2 linked regions of the Homo sapiens genome follow. The protein of the gene in region 2 purifies or fractionates together with the protein of the main gene of each other region. This does not show direct contact. Each region holds a gene or a part of one and is shown on either strand. Other genes may lie near its edges.

What was found.
Region 1: the proteins of KLHL3 (region 2) and WNK2 purify together in Homo sapiens (affinity purification with western blotting; 2 studies listed by BioGRID, with this or other methods). This does not show direct contact.

What each region holds. Positions count from the first base shown.
Region 1 is NC_000009.12:93,179,959-93,187,271, forward strand, and holds the start of WNK2 (serine/threonine-protein kinase WNK2), read left to right. Parts: upstream 1-4,180; 5' UTR 4,181-4,427; intron 4,428-4,969; 5' UTR 4,970-4,971; coding exon 4,972-5,652; intron 5,653-7,313. UniProt on the Homo sapiens protein: Serine/threonine-protein kinase component of the WNK2-SPAK/OSR1 kinase cascade, which plays an important role in the regulation of electrolyte homeostasis, cell signaling, survival, and proliferation.
Region 2 is NC_000005.10:137,725,865-137,733,138, forward strand, and holds part of KLHL3 (kelch-like protein 3), read right to left. Parts: intron 1-7,274. UniProt on the Homo sapiens protein: Substrate-specific adapter of a BCR (BTB-CUL3-RBX1) E3 ubiquitin ligase complex that acts as a regulator of ion transport in the distal nephron.

The DNA of each region.
Region 1 (7,313 bases), on a different chromosome or scaffold from region 2:
AGACAGAGTCTCACTCTGTTGCCCTGGCTGGAATGCAGTGGCGCAATCTTGGTTCATGTAACCTCTGCCTCCCAAGTTCAAGTGATTCTCCTGCCTCAGCCTCCTGAGTAACTGGGATTACAGGTGCACACCACCACACCCAGCTAATTTTTTTGTATTTTTAGTAGGGACAGGGTTTCACCATGTTGGCCAGGCTGGTCTCGATCTCCTGACCTCAGGTGATCCACCCGTTCGGCCTCCCAAAGTGCTGGGAATACAAGCGTGAGCCACAGCACCTGGCCTACTTTTAGCTGTATGATCTGCCTTACCAGAACTGAGCGTCACCCCAAATCTCACCTCTCCACTAGAATCGCAAATAAAGTCCTACACAGTGAAGTGTTGACTTAGGAAACGGGATCGTTTTCTGATTTGTGTGTCATACTTCGGAACATTTCTAATGGAACCCTGCTGTTGGAAGGAAACAAGTTCTTCAACCATTCATCCATCACAGCTGAGTCAGAAGCGTTGTGTCATCCTGTACCACCCGACCTGCCTACCTCAGGCCCTACCCACGGGGAGCTTCCATCCTGCTGGTTGTCCTGAGGCTCTATGACCCACAGCAGGAAGACACTGCAGCCTGGTCATGCCCTTCCCATCCTCTGACATCATCTTCCAGGAGTAGGGGCCCGAGCTTCCACAGCCCACCTGCTCCCACCTACTGCCACCTTCCTGCCACCACACACTGTCAGGCCTTCATCCTGTCCCCACGCCCTTCCTCAGGTCACAGGTCTTCCTGCATTCCCCCAAGCCACTTGCCTGGCCTCTCTGGGCTCTGCTTTTCCAGCACTGTCCTCCCCATCTGATGCCCCTGCCAGGGTATTCTCCCCATGGTGTGACCCGGGGGGCACTCAGGCAAGTGGCCTGGCCACACTGGACCTGAGCACTAGATAGGTTGCCTGACTCCACTCAGAGGCAGAACCTGCCCCACGGGGCAATTGTGGACTGAGCTCCAGCTGGGCATGGCTAGACCCTGCTCTTCCTTCTAGCCAGTGACCCTCAATGGGCCCTGATGTGAGCAGAGGCAGTGGAGCTAGCCCCATCTCCTTTCCTCCCTTCTTTCATGAGCATTTGTTGAATGCCTTTTGTTGCCAAGACTGTTGAGCATGACCATTATGCCCATCTCACAGATGAGCAAACTGAAACCATGGTCCTGTTGCTTGCTGAGGCCCAGCTCCTGGAACTGCATCTGCATGGAGCAGGTGTGTGCCTGCACGTGCCTACTGGCTGGGTAGGCTGGAGCATAGCCTGGACTTGGGAGAAACTTTTTTCACCAAAGGGGCTCCCTGGCATTGTGGAAGCTAAGGTGATAGCTGTGGGTAGAGGTCACTGTCTCCACTCTGAGGCCTTGAGAAAGTTACTTAAAGTTGAAAAATCTCTGGGCAAGACCTCAATGTACTCATCTGTTCTAAACATCGAAGACAAATGCTGCCCCGTAATCCCAGCACTTTGGGAGGCTGAGGTGGTTGGATCACTTGAGGTCAGGAGTCCGATACCAGCCCGGCCAACATGGTGAAACCTCATCTCTACTAAAAATACAAAATTAGCTGGGCGTGGTGGTGGGCGCCTGTAATCCCAGCTACTCAGGAGGCTGAGGCAGGAGAATTGCTTGATCCTGGGAGGCAGAGGTTGCAGTGAGCTGAGCTGAGATCCCGTCACTGCACTCCAGCCTGGGCAACAAAGTGAAACTCCATCTCAAAAAAACAAAAACAAAAGCAGAAAACAAAAAACAAACCTCCAAAAGACAAATGCTGGCATCATGACCCTGGATCATGCAGCCTCAGGACACCCAGTAAAGCAGACTACAGTATTTATACTCCCCGTCTTAGCAGCAGGGAGATGGAAGCTCAGAGATATCCAGTGACCTGCCAAAGGGCATATAGCCAGTGCTGTGAAGTCCTGACTTCCAAGGTCTGTCCAAGGATCCCTCAGGCTCCATCTGCCAGGATCCCAGGAGCTGCTCCTGAGCCCAGCCTGAGATTCCTTGCAGAGGAAACTGTGACCTGTCCACTACTGACTTAGCTGTGTACCCTAATGGTCATGGGTTGGCAGAGAGAATGAGCTCTCCACCATGGGAGGTGTGTAAGCAGAGATGCGTGAATTCACCCCAAGGGCTCAGAGAGCACACAGTACTCTCTCAGGGACAGGCTGTCCCCCACTCCCCACAGCCTGGGCTGCTCCCTGCTGATTTGTGGGTGTAGCCATCCTTTCCCACGCATGTGTACAAGTGTGGGTGGGCAGCAGCCATGGGTGCTGATGAACCTTCTCCGATGCTGGCAGGTATTTTGCCCACACACTGCCAGTGTGGCCTGTTGGGAGCAGGAGGAGGCCAGATAGGTGTGTGCTGGTCTCAGAACACGCTTAGCTCTGTCCCATCCTGGTTTTCCCTTGGATAGGCTTGAACACACCCATCATGAACAGGTCTGTGGACTTGGTGCCCTTCCTAGATTGACTGAATCTACAAGGAATTGGCAGCCTTTTAAGGTGGGCAAGTCAGGATGATCAGCCCACTCTGCAGGGCCAGATACTGAGGCTCAGGAAGGACCAGGACTTGCCCAAGTTCACTCAGCTGGTTAGGGGCAAGGTTGGGGGGTCTTTAGCCTCCAAAGGGAAGACAGAAAAGATCCTTTTCCACCCCTGACCTCTACCTGGAAGACTCCTGCCCCAGGAGATGCAACTTAGATCCCTGTCCCTCAGGCCTCTCTGTCCTGCAGAGCTGGCGTCTGCTGTTTGGCCTCCTCCTCGTGTGAGCTCTGGGCTCATGCCAGCGGACTTGAGCCCCGGAATGAATGCCTGTCTCACACGGTAGATTAGATTATATAAATAACAGGCAAGTGCCAAATGCATAGCCCTACACCTAGCACACTATTTAACCACTGGCTCTCTGGGGAGAAAAGTCCTGATTTGAGGTGTTTGCCAATTTCCGCAGTGTAAATACTCCCAGCATTGCTGACTTCAGGCTACAGGGTGGCATTGCTGAACCCAGAGCTGGGAAGGGATGTTCACTGTTGCCCCTCACAAATTAGTTTCAGCCAGTGCCAGTGCCCAGCGGGGCTCCAGGAAGTCCTGCTTCTCTGGGTAACAGTTGGCCTGGCATATTCTTCCCTCTACATTGTGAAGGTGAGATATCGCCTCTGCTGGCTTTTATGCCACATGAGTTATTTTGTGCCAGGGGCTCCAAGGCCTACAGGCCCACAAGCATCTTTTCATCTCTGGAAGTGTGTGTGTATCTGATGGGGGTGCCAGCCCAGTGGGATGGGGACTGAGATGAGAATACTCTGGTATCTCCCTTGTGCCTCAGTTTCCTCACCTAGGATCATGGAGGCTGGGGTAAGGGTGAAGTGTTAGCTCAGGGCATTGCCTGGAGCAGGGCTCAGAACTTAGCAGTATGGTTACTGACACAGGTCACCTGCTGCATTAGGGCCAGAGACGCCCAAGAGAGGGCTTGTCCGTGGGGGTCTAGAGGAGGAAGGAGCTAGAGATCATGGAAGACTTCTCGGGAGAGGTGGCATCTGGCAGAGGTGGGAAGGAAGAACACTTTGGGTCAAGGGGCTTCTGGAAGCCTCTCCATATCCCATCCAAGGCATTCCAGCTCAGCTTCGGTCTTGAAAGTTCTGGGATTTAGAGCATATAACTTCTGCCTTTGGCGCCTCAGTTTGCTCTAGACTGTGAAATGGGCATAATGATCACCAGTGCCTCCCTGGGTGATGATGAGGTCCTCATGGTTCCTGGTGGTGAAGTGAGGGCAGGAAAGGACACGCTGAGCCCCACCAGGCTTAGCCCCAGGCTGGGCTCCCGAGGGCGGCGGTACCCCTGGTCCTTTTCTTCCTAGCCTGCCCATTCTGTCCTGGCACAGGGCCTTGAGGTCTAGCGCGCCGGGCTGCGGCGTGCTGAGGCGTTGAGCCTGCTGCCTCCTCTCAGGAAGAAACGGGGTCCTCCGCAGCTGACAGCCCTGCGGGGCGTTCCAAAGAACTTCAGAGGACAGGAGCGCTACCTCGAGCAAAGAACCGCGGGTGGGAGCCCAGGTAGCCGGCCCGCAGGTGGCCGCGCGCGCCTGCCAGTCAGCCAGCCCGTCCGCAGCCAGGTGGGCGTGCCAGGCCCAGCCCCCTGCGCCGGTCCGGGGCGGGGCGAACGGAGCCCCGCCCTCCCCGCGCGCCGGGTCGGAGCCGGTGCGGGAGCGGAGCCGCGCGAAGCCGGCAGGAGCACGCGGGAGCGCGGCCCCGCAGTGGCCCGGCCCGAGAGAGCAGCGCGCAGGAGCTGGAGCGGCGCCACGGCCCCCACCCCAGCGCGGACCTCGCCCGGAACTCGGACCCCGTCCTCGAAGCGTGATCTCTCCCGCCTCGCACGCCCTGGCCGCCGGGCCGCGGGCATGGACGGCGTCCGCTCGCCCTGTGAGTGCCGAGCCTCCCCTCAACGCCGCTCGCCGCCTTTGTGTGCGCGCCGCGGCGCTGCAGCCCCCTCCCCGCGCGCCCCTCCCGCGCCCCGGGCCCGCGTCCTTTGTGGAGCCGCCGCCGGGCCACTGCCTTCCTCCCACCCCCGGGCTTCCCTATCCCCTTTACAGCTGCCTCCGGGACAGCCTAGCAGAACCCTCCTGGGCCAGGGCTGGGCAGGGCGCGAGATCCCTCTGCCGGCCTCCGGGGCCCTCAGGGACACCCTAGCAGGTCCTCTCTCCCAGGGTTCCAGGGACACCACAGGCCCGTCCCTCTCCGCAGCCTGGGGCTGAGCAGGGCACGGACCCCTCCTCCCCAACCCAAGCCTCTGGTCCCGTCTGCAGCCCCCCTTTCCCAGGGCCCCCAGAGACGGCCCCCGCAGGCTCTCTCCGCGGCCGGGGCTGGGCAGGTTGCGGGCTTAGGGCGGCGTTGTCTCATCCGGCGGCCTGGGCAGGTGCGGCAGGGCCGGCGCTCACGCGGGCCTGTGTGTCCTTGGCCCACAGAGATGGACGGCGATGGCGGCCGCCGAGACGTCCCCGGCACGCTGATGGAGCCCGGGCGCGGCGCGGGGCCCGCGGGCATGGCGGAGCCTCGGGCGAAGGCGGCGCGGCCGGGGCCCCAGCGCTTTCTGCGGCGCAGCGTGGTAGAGTCGGACCAGGAGGAGCCGCCGGGCTTGGAGGCAGCCGAGGCGCCGGGCCCGCAGCCCCCGCAGCCCCTGCAGCGCCGGGTGCTTCTGCTCTGCAAGACGCGCCGCCTCATCGCGGAGCGCGCCCGCGGACGCCCCGCCGCCCCCGCGCCCGCAGCGCTGGTAGCGCAGCCGGGAGCCCCCGGAGCCCCCGCGGACGCCGGCCCCGAGCCCGTGGGCACGCAGGAGCCCGGCCCGGACCCCATCGCAGCCGCTGTCGAAACCGCGCCTGCCCCCGACGGCGGCCCCAGGGAGGAGGCGGCGGCGACCGTGAGGAAGGAGGATGAGGGGGCGGCCGAGGCGAAGCCTGAGCCCGGGCGCACTCGCCGGGACGAGCCCGAAGAGGAGGAGGACGACGAGGACGACCTCAAGGCCGTGGCCACCTCTCTGGACGGCCGCTTCCTCAAGTTCGACATCGAGCTGGGCCGCGGTTCCTTCAAGACGGTCTACAAGGGGCTGGACACGGAGACCTGGGTGGAGGTGGCCTGGTGTGAGCTGCAGGTGAGGGTGCCCCAGCCCGCAGGGGGCTTTCCGCAGGGTCTGTCCGCGAGTGCGTCCTTGGGCCTGTCCTTGCTCCTGCGCCTGGCCTTAAGAAGCCCTGGGGGCGGCGGGGCTCCATGTGTGTCACCCTCTGTGTGGATGGCTGGCAGGATGCATACCAGGTGTGCGGACGGCATGTGGGGCCTGGCTGTGTCCGTGCGCAGGTTGCGGTTTGTGAGTCAGCTGGTGGCGAGGGCAGGCCTCTGTTGTGCGTTTGGTGTAAGTGTGCACGCTGTGGGCGTAGAGAGGGTCCTGGAGAGTGGGCCTCGGAGGCTGTGTCTCTTAGGCTGCTGCTTCTCCAGTCCCGATGACCTACTTTAATGACCCAGGGAGTCTGGACTGTTGTGTCTTTGCAAAACAGTGTGGAGGCTTCAAGGCCCGGTGTGTGCAGTCAGAGTGTTTTGGGGGCTCTGGGCTGCCCATAAATTAGTACTTTCCTGTGTCCAGCAAGCCGTGGCTGCCCCAGCAGGGATACCTGCAGAGACTTCTTCTGACCCAGGGCCTGTGACCCAGAGGTGGTGCCTGGTAGAGCTCTGGGGACAGCTGGGCAAGGCCTGGAAGTGTGGTTAGTCGCCTCTGCTGCTCTGAGAGCTCCATTTGTTCACAAAATGGACGTGTGAGAGGTCTTAAAACCGAGTCATGCAGAATGCGTGTGGGGGTTTTTCTTGGCTGCAGAGGCTCTGGGCATGCATTTTTCATAATCCTGCCATCACCGTGGTGTCAGCCCCAGCCCTGCAAGATTATATAAACAGCCACCTTAGCTGTCCTGGGACAGCCTAGGAAGCAGAGGCCATGCCTGTCCAGGGGGTGTTTACAGGCCTCCCTCCTTGGAGGTGGGCAGCTGTCAGGCGTGAGCCAGTCTGGGAGAGTGCCGGCTGGAGGTGTAAGTGTACTCTGTTGGCCTGTAAAGTTAGCTGGCTGTCCAGTCCAGGCCTGAAACGGGGCTGGGGCTAGCTGGGGCAAGCTGTGTTCTGGGGCCGCTGGCCACACTGCGGGACTCTTGCATTTTTGACTCAGAAGTGGGATTCAATTGCTATATCCTCCGGCCCCGACAGGGTGGCCTGCGTGTGTGTGCAAGCCTGGATAATTCGGTGGGTGTCGACCTGTCGTCAGCCTTTCTCCCAAGACAAAGAGCTCCAGAGACCTGCCTCTCCACCACCCCTTGGTTCTGCCTTGGAGATGTGGCTTTTCAAGTTAGGGGTCAGTGGCATTGTGTGAGGTCCTTAGGAGGGACTGAACAGCTCCCCTCCCTCATGGTCCTGTAGGTTCTGATGGTACAGGAAAGGCAGTGGGTGGGGCAGGGGGCTGTGATCTGGGGGTCCTGGGGTGTGCTGGGCATTCCTGCTGCAAGGGAAAGCAGAGAGAAGAGAGGGCCTGAAAGGGGAGACGACTCTTGATTCTGGCGAGCGGTCTTCCTGCTCTTGCCCTTCTGACCGGAGCACCCTCAGGTGCTGCCTCTGCAGGGTGGTGGATGGAACAGGGGTGCTGCAGTAGGCTGGATTTGAGTTAGACCTCGGCAGCCAGAGCCTGCTGATCTGGCTGAGGCATCGCAGGCGCATGTGACTCTTGGAGCTTGTTAGTTCCCATTCCCTTTAAGGAAACGCAGGCGATTCTGTCTCTGG
Region 2 (7,274 bases):
CTGACTTATCTCACACTCACAGATACCCACTGACCCCATTCAGGAAGACATACATGTGAGACAGTCAAGCTTCATAGCCATAAGGATAGACATAGTTGGCCCTTCTTTTCTGGGCTTTCAGCTTCTCTTTTCCCCTGACTTAGACTATTACAGTGGCCTCCCACCTGCTGTTCCCCACTCTAGATACTCTCCCTCCAAGTATTTCCTGCACACCATCGCCAAACTGATCCTTCTAAAATGTCATCTGACCATGACTTTCAGATCCTCACTGCACACAGGTCTCTTCGGGGCTGTGAGGTTTATGAGCTGAAGCTTCAGTCACAGCCCTCTGCCTCCATTTGTTCTATATGTTGAGGGTCCACATAAAATTTCCTTTCAAAGGACTCTATAGCTAAAAAGCTGAAAAATCATCAGTCTACAGGATAAAGTCATGATTCTTGACTAGTATTCAAGGACCTCCTTGACCTGGACTGAACCTAAATGCCAGCCTTACCTCTCTCACTTACTCAAATATTTACTAAGTACCTATTATGTGCCAAGCAGATGAACCGTTCACTGCAGACACCTATATTTCCCTTCTCTTTCCCTGTATCATAATCTAAATACCTGTTCTTTGAGGACCAATTAAACTTTACCTCCTCCATGAAACCCTCGGGATACATCAGTTCTAAGTGAGCTCTTCCTTCTCTGAATTCCTGTAGTATTTCTGGCCTGTAACTCAACTGGCACATAGAATTCTGCCTTGTGCCTGATTACTTTTTCAGGGTACAAATCCAACCACCTACCTGCCTCACACTAGATTCAACATACCCAGAGGGCAAGGAACATGTGTCTGAGGACTCTGTATAGCTTAGCCTGCCCAGCATGAGGTCATGCCCACAGTAGGTCCTCATGACATATTTGTCATCTGAACTCTACCTGAAGACCCTTCACTTGTCTTTACAAGCGTTAGATGGTAGAGTAGAAGGGGATAGTCTGACCAACACTTTTATTTTTTAATGAAAGCAGAGTTGGCCTTCAGAGTTAAATTATAAATAAAATATACATAAAATAGTAATTATAAAAGTTATAAATAAAAATATATAAGCTCTAAAAATTAGGCCCTCTTTTAGCACAGCACCTTCCAAAGCCTTCTTTCTTGCCCTCCTCTATCCTCTAAATTACAGATCCACATATCCAATGTCTTATTTGACTCCCCTAATTAGATTTTACACAGGTAATTCATACTTATTCAAAATTTATGTTCCCCACCCTCCCTTAAGCCTGCTACTCTTTCTGTATTCTCTATCTCAGAGGCATAACCAACCACCCAATCACCTATCCAAGCCAAAAACTGGGGTGTTATCCTTGATATCTTCCTCCCTCTCTCTCTCTCTCACTCCTCACATACAGCCATAAATCGAATCAATCCTATGTCCATTAATATCCCTGCACCCCATTTCCTTCTCACTTTCGCTACCATTACAACCCCATTCCAGGTCATCATTGTCTCTTGCCAGGATTATTATAATAACCTCCTCCCAGACTCCAGAGGGACTTTTCCAAAATGTCAATGTGTTCCAGGCATGTTCTACATGAAGCCTCACTGATTCCTCACTGCATTCAGAATAAATCTCAGGGACCTAGCCTGGCCCTTAATCCCATCGTTGCCCTGAAGACTTCTTATTACCGTAATACTAAAATACTTGCAATAGCCAAAATACACTAGGCTCTCTGCCTTGTGAAGTTTTGTCTCACTAGAAAACTGTTCTATCTTATTCCCCACTCATTCTCCCGTGTCTAGCTAGTTCCTACCAGCCTTCAAGCCTCTTCCCTGAAGCCTTCCCTCTCATTCTCCACTACTCACTAGATTAGTTAAAATCTAGTGGGAAACTAGGTTAGTTTCCCCAGTTCTGTATTCCCACAGTACTGTGCTTCCTTCTGTATTGTATTCTAATTACCTCTTACTTATCTGTCTGCCCCACACAGTGTGTGCTGGTAAATGTTTAACAGTTGATTGGGAGGAAAGGAGCCCTGATTTGTAACATTTGCCAATTTCCAGACTGTAAATACTCCCACCATGGCAGATTTTAAGCTACCAACATGATGCCACCGAACATGAGATTTGGGAAGAGATGTGCAACAGCACACCATCATATCACTGTATAGTATTTCTACACCAAGACACAATAGACATAACCTCAAAGCCCTAGAAGATTACAGTAAAAAATAATTAGAAAGTGATGAGTTTGGGGTATTTATTACATTCATTTTTAATATAATTTATAAGTTACATAATTTGTTAATAATGGCTATATTTAATAACTGGCTCCGAAAATTCCTGAAAATTTAACAAACAGCTTTTCCAAGTGGGTGAGTGCTGACTCCAGCACACTGCTGCCCCCTCTAGATTGTGAGCTCTCCATGAGAACCAAGACAGTTATCTTAGTTGCCTCTGAATTCTTAGCTTCTGTCACATGACAGGTGCTCAATGAATGATTACTGAGTAAATTAATAGGTAGATAAGTAAATTAGGTTTAACTACTGACCACTGTAGCTTTCCTCACTCCCCTTCATTAAAATACTGATGGCTTTGTCCCCCTCAACTTTCTCTCCATGACCCCTCCACCTCACGTTCAGAGAGGAGTACTTTCTTAGGCAGCCCAGTCCCCTGCATTGATGACACAGAATCAGGAGGATGGGAGTGAGAGAAAGCCAGCAACAACTAGAGAAGAGGGAAGAAAGTGAGATAGGTTACTGCTTACTGTGTCAGTTCTTAGACTCTTTCTATTGCTGAGGAAAATGGAGGCAGTGAATGGAAAGGAAAGGATACTAAAAAACATGCTAGAAAGGCAGGGGATAGAAGAGTCTCCAAGCAGGCTGATTGTGCAGCAATGTTTGGGGGAATCCAACAAATGAGGAGCTCCAAGTGATGAGAACTCACGGACACAAAGAAGGGAACAACAGACACTAGGGCCTACTTGAGGATGGAGGGTGGGTGGAGGAAGAGGAGCAGAAAAAATAACTATTGGCTACCTGGGTGATGACAGGTACTAATCTGTACAACAAACCTCTGTGACACAAGTTTACCTATATAACAAACCAGCACGTGTACCCCTGAACCTAAAATAAAAGTTAAAAAAAAAAAAAAGAAAAGAAAAAACAAATGAGGAGTTCCAGAACATCTTGGGTGTGCGAGAATGTAGAGGGAAGGAAAGTGGAGTCTGAGAAATGCTGTTAAAGGTTATGATCTGTTTCACCTCTAAAGGTCTCCAAGAGATGCAAATAAAATTCAGAAGTCATGAGCTGATACTGGCCACATACAAGAGGCCCAAGCACATTATGTTCAAGCTAGAGATGAGATGGAATAAAGAGGCAAAACCACTCAATGAAGGCAAAACAACTGTGAGCCAGGGCAAAGCTGTGCTGAATGCATTAAAAACTCTCAACAAAGAAAGTGTCATTTAGAAAGGAATAACCAAAAACTAAGAATCAGACAGAGAAGAAAGCCCTCGGTCCAACCCATCACACTCTGTCTAGGAAAGTGATTTAATCATCAGATATCGTCAGCTGGTTCAGCCTCAGGTCAGATCCTCATGGTGGAGTTTGAAGTCTGTAAATACTCCAATGCCATAACTCAGTCCCTAGTTTACTCTGCAGCCTTTTGACCAGTTTGGCCTCCCCCGTGGTTGTCCTTCAGAGAGGTAGAATGTGGTTGCAGGCCCTCAGGAATATCTTGCCAGTAATATTTTACTGCAAATCAATAAACTGATGACATGTTGACTATTGTATTTTAGGTTCTCATGAGGTCATTGGCATGACTCTGCTTCTCCAACTCTGGACAGCAATGGGACCCTATATAGATAGGATTTCTGAGCCCCTGGCACTCTGGTCAAACTGCAGATCTAGTAAGTATCCCAATCCTAAAGTTCAAGACCAAAATGATCAAACTTAGATTTCTACTTCTGGATTAATGAAGAACCTGACTCTTGAAGATGTCCAGCCAGCAGGATTCAGGACTTGGTGGTGCAGTCCTGCTATCACAAAGTACCATTTACACACAGGTTACCAGAGAGCCCCATACTCTTCATCCTCTTTCAGCAGTGCCACCTCAGTTCATAGAATTAGGCTGAATCGCTATAATAGCCCACATGGACACGTAGAACACATGCATTAGTAAGGTACAGATCGAGTTAACATTTCCTGAAAGTTGAGGGTATGTTAAAGCACCTTACCTCCATTTTATCTTCAGAACAACCCTAGGAAGTAGGTAGCATTATCTCTTAAGGTACAGACATAAAGTCTTCCCAAAAGTCCCACATAACTAGTAAGTGCAGAACTGGCACTGAAACCCAGGTCTATCTGACTCCAAGGCCTGGGCTTTTAATAACAATGTCCACTGACTCGGGATAATGTCCATAGCCCATCAGGCCAAGTGAGGCACAACCCTTCATGTCCCACTCTCTGACGTTCTTCCTTGTGCAACCAAACCAGGCCAAATGAAAAAAGACCAAATCTCCTAGGACCTGTGATATAGCACTACTTCACTTCTGATTATGGGAAATTGCAGTGTGTACTGGAGTCAGTGTTATTAATTGTATTGAACTTGGAGTTTCCACACTGGGGCCTTCACACAAGCCAATCATGATTCACCAAAGATGACCAGCAGATGCTGTCATTCTTGTAACATGCTCCTTCATAAACAAGCTCAAGAACAGGTATGTTACTAATCACATTCCTAAAACCCCAAGTCACAAACTGCTTTCTTTAAAACTCAAGGGGAAAACTCTTAAGTGGGCTGTGTAAAAATGTAAAACATTTTACACAGACAGATAGAATTAGACAAGAAGAGAGAAAGACTAAAAGAAAACATGCTCCTCATTATGTGGCATTTTGGAAGCCAAGCTTATGTTTGGTTTGAATAGGAGAGCTGAGCCCTTGTATGTGTGTGGTTTTGATAGTGGCTATGATATACTTTCATAAGTGAAAATGAAAAGTCCAGGAAAGTTGTGCTAAGACTCTGAAAATCCTCATAAATGATAAAAAGTTAGATCTCTGACCTGAGAGGCATTGAACTTATTTAACAGAAAAAAAAATCTACCAACACATGTTCAAGCTATTTTTTACATGGTTTATTAGTGCTCTATTCCGTTTAACCTAGTTTGAACATTCATCCAGAAATTGAAAAAAAAAAATAGGTCAGTTTGATGATGGCAAATTTCATCAAATAAAGCACTTGCTTTAGGAAAACTTACACAAAAATTATCTTGTCCAGATCTGTTTTACCAGTTCAAAACTTAGCAAGCAAAATCCTAAAAATCCAAATCTGGGTGCAGGGATATCAAGAGGTTTCTTTCCCTGACTTTGTTTTTGCAGTTGAAAACCTTACTTTGTCAAAAAGTATTTCCAAAATGGAAAAATTTGGTTTCAATTATCATGGTTGAAATGCGTGCACATCTGCTTCAGGCAGCAGTGATGCCCAAAACTTTTTACAGAATTTTCTATCCCTGACTTCTAAGGTTGGGGGAGGACTAAGTGACTTGCCGCTGGGAACAGAAAAAAGGCTAGGTTGCTCAACACTTGCTCTTCCCTGGGTCTTGCCAGCATTCAACCTGACATTACAAAACTCAACATTTAAAGTGTACTGGCTTTCTAAGTCTTGTCTCCTCAGAAAATATTCTCTATCTGTCGTTCCTGGATCAAGGGTAAATAGATGAGCTCCTTTTGCTCAGAAGTTCCCTGAGGTCCAAAAACAGACTCTCCTTCATAAAAACCAGCCATTAAGAACCATCCTCTGAGGACACCTCACACAAAATCACAGCATAGTGCCCGGTACATGGTGCCCCTCTCAAGCAGGGGCATCTCTGTGCTTCTGATGAAGAAAATAATCACAATTTTAAGAAAAATAGACAATTAACTTCCCCTTTTTATGATGCTTCTTCCAAAGTTGTGGTGCTCTGTAACTCTTGCAGATCTGCCACAGTCTGGGCCTGAATGTTTTTTATTGTGGTAAAATAGATGTAACATAAAATGTATAATTTTAACCGTTTTTAAGTACAGTCATACTGTTGTACAACCATCACCACCACCCATCTCCAGAATTATTTCATCTTCCCAAACTGAAACTCTCTATCCATTAAACAATAACTTCCCCACTCCTCCCTCCCTCCAGCTCCTGGTAACCATTTTACTTTCTGTCTCTATGAATCTGACTAACCATTTATTTTGAAATTTTATTTTAAGCTATCCACAAGGCTGATTTCCAGAACTGAAATAAAATCCCAATTGCAAGGGCAACTGCCATTTCTGATATCTATCTTCTCTACATTCACACTCACACAGAAACAATTTATCATTGTAATAGCTAACAGCCAGAGACCCTTTCCCTTTGCAAAACAGAAGACAAAATCACCTTCCTCTGACTGTTCAAGCCACAGTGATTCTCCCATGGAGGGAACTGGGGAAGACTTAGCATCATAAGGTCCAGGAGAGACCTGGAAATCTAGAAAGATACAGCAAAGGCTAGTGCAAATTCACAAGTTCTTCTTAAGAGATTTTGGCCTGAACAAACATGCATCCAGCCCATGGTTCCAACCACTGAGGCAACTAGATGCCACAGGTTGTCTATAAAAAGAAAGATTAAGGTAGATCTTGGTGAAACCTAAAAGAAGAAATGCCAAGCCCTATGGGGTAACTTACTATAAGGAGATAGTTTTAGATAAGAAGCAAGATGACGGCCTGATAAGCTCCCTCATTTCCTCATGGAAATGGTTCTACATAATCTGCTTTGGATGATAAAAAAAGAGAGGTCCTAAAATATGCCTTGGTTAGTAACCCAGCAGCAAAGTATAGGGTACAACATAGCAATAGGTGGATACCAATGATAATAGCAACTACCATCTACTGAGTACTCACTCTGTGCCTAAAAAACTTTACTAGGTACCTTACACATATTGTACCATTTAATCTTCACAACAGCTCTATGAAGTGTAAGTACTGTTATTATTCCCTTTACACAGAAGAGAAAAATTAGTTCTGAAAAAAATGTGACACACTCAAGGTCACACTGTTTGTAAAGCAGATTCACCGCTAGGTCTATGTTACTCCAAAGTCCATGCTTTTAATTAATAGCCTTTCAAGGTAGAAAGTATTTTCATACCCTCATGGCAAAGAAAAAAAAAATTGTTCATTAGCAATCCCTTGGTTGAAATTTTGTAATGCTTAAAAACAGCCCCGATTAAGATTCAGCAGGTTAAGTGTGGAATGAGCACCAGATTGAGGATCCCTCCAGTCTC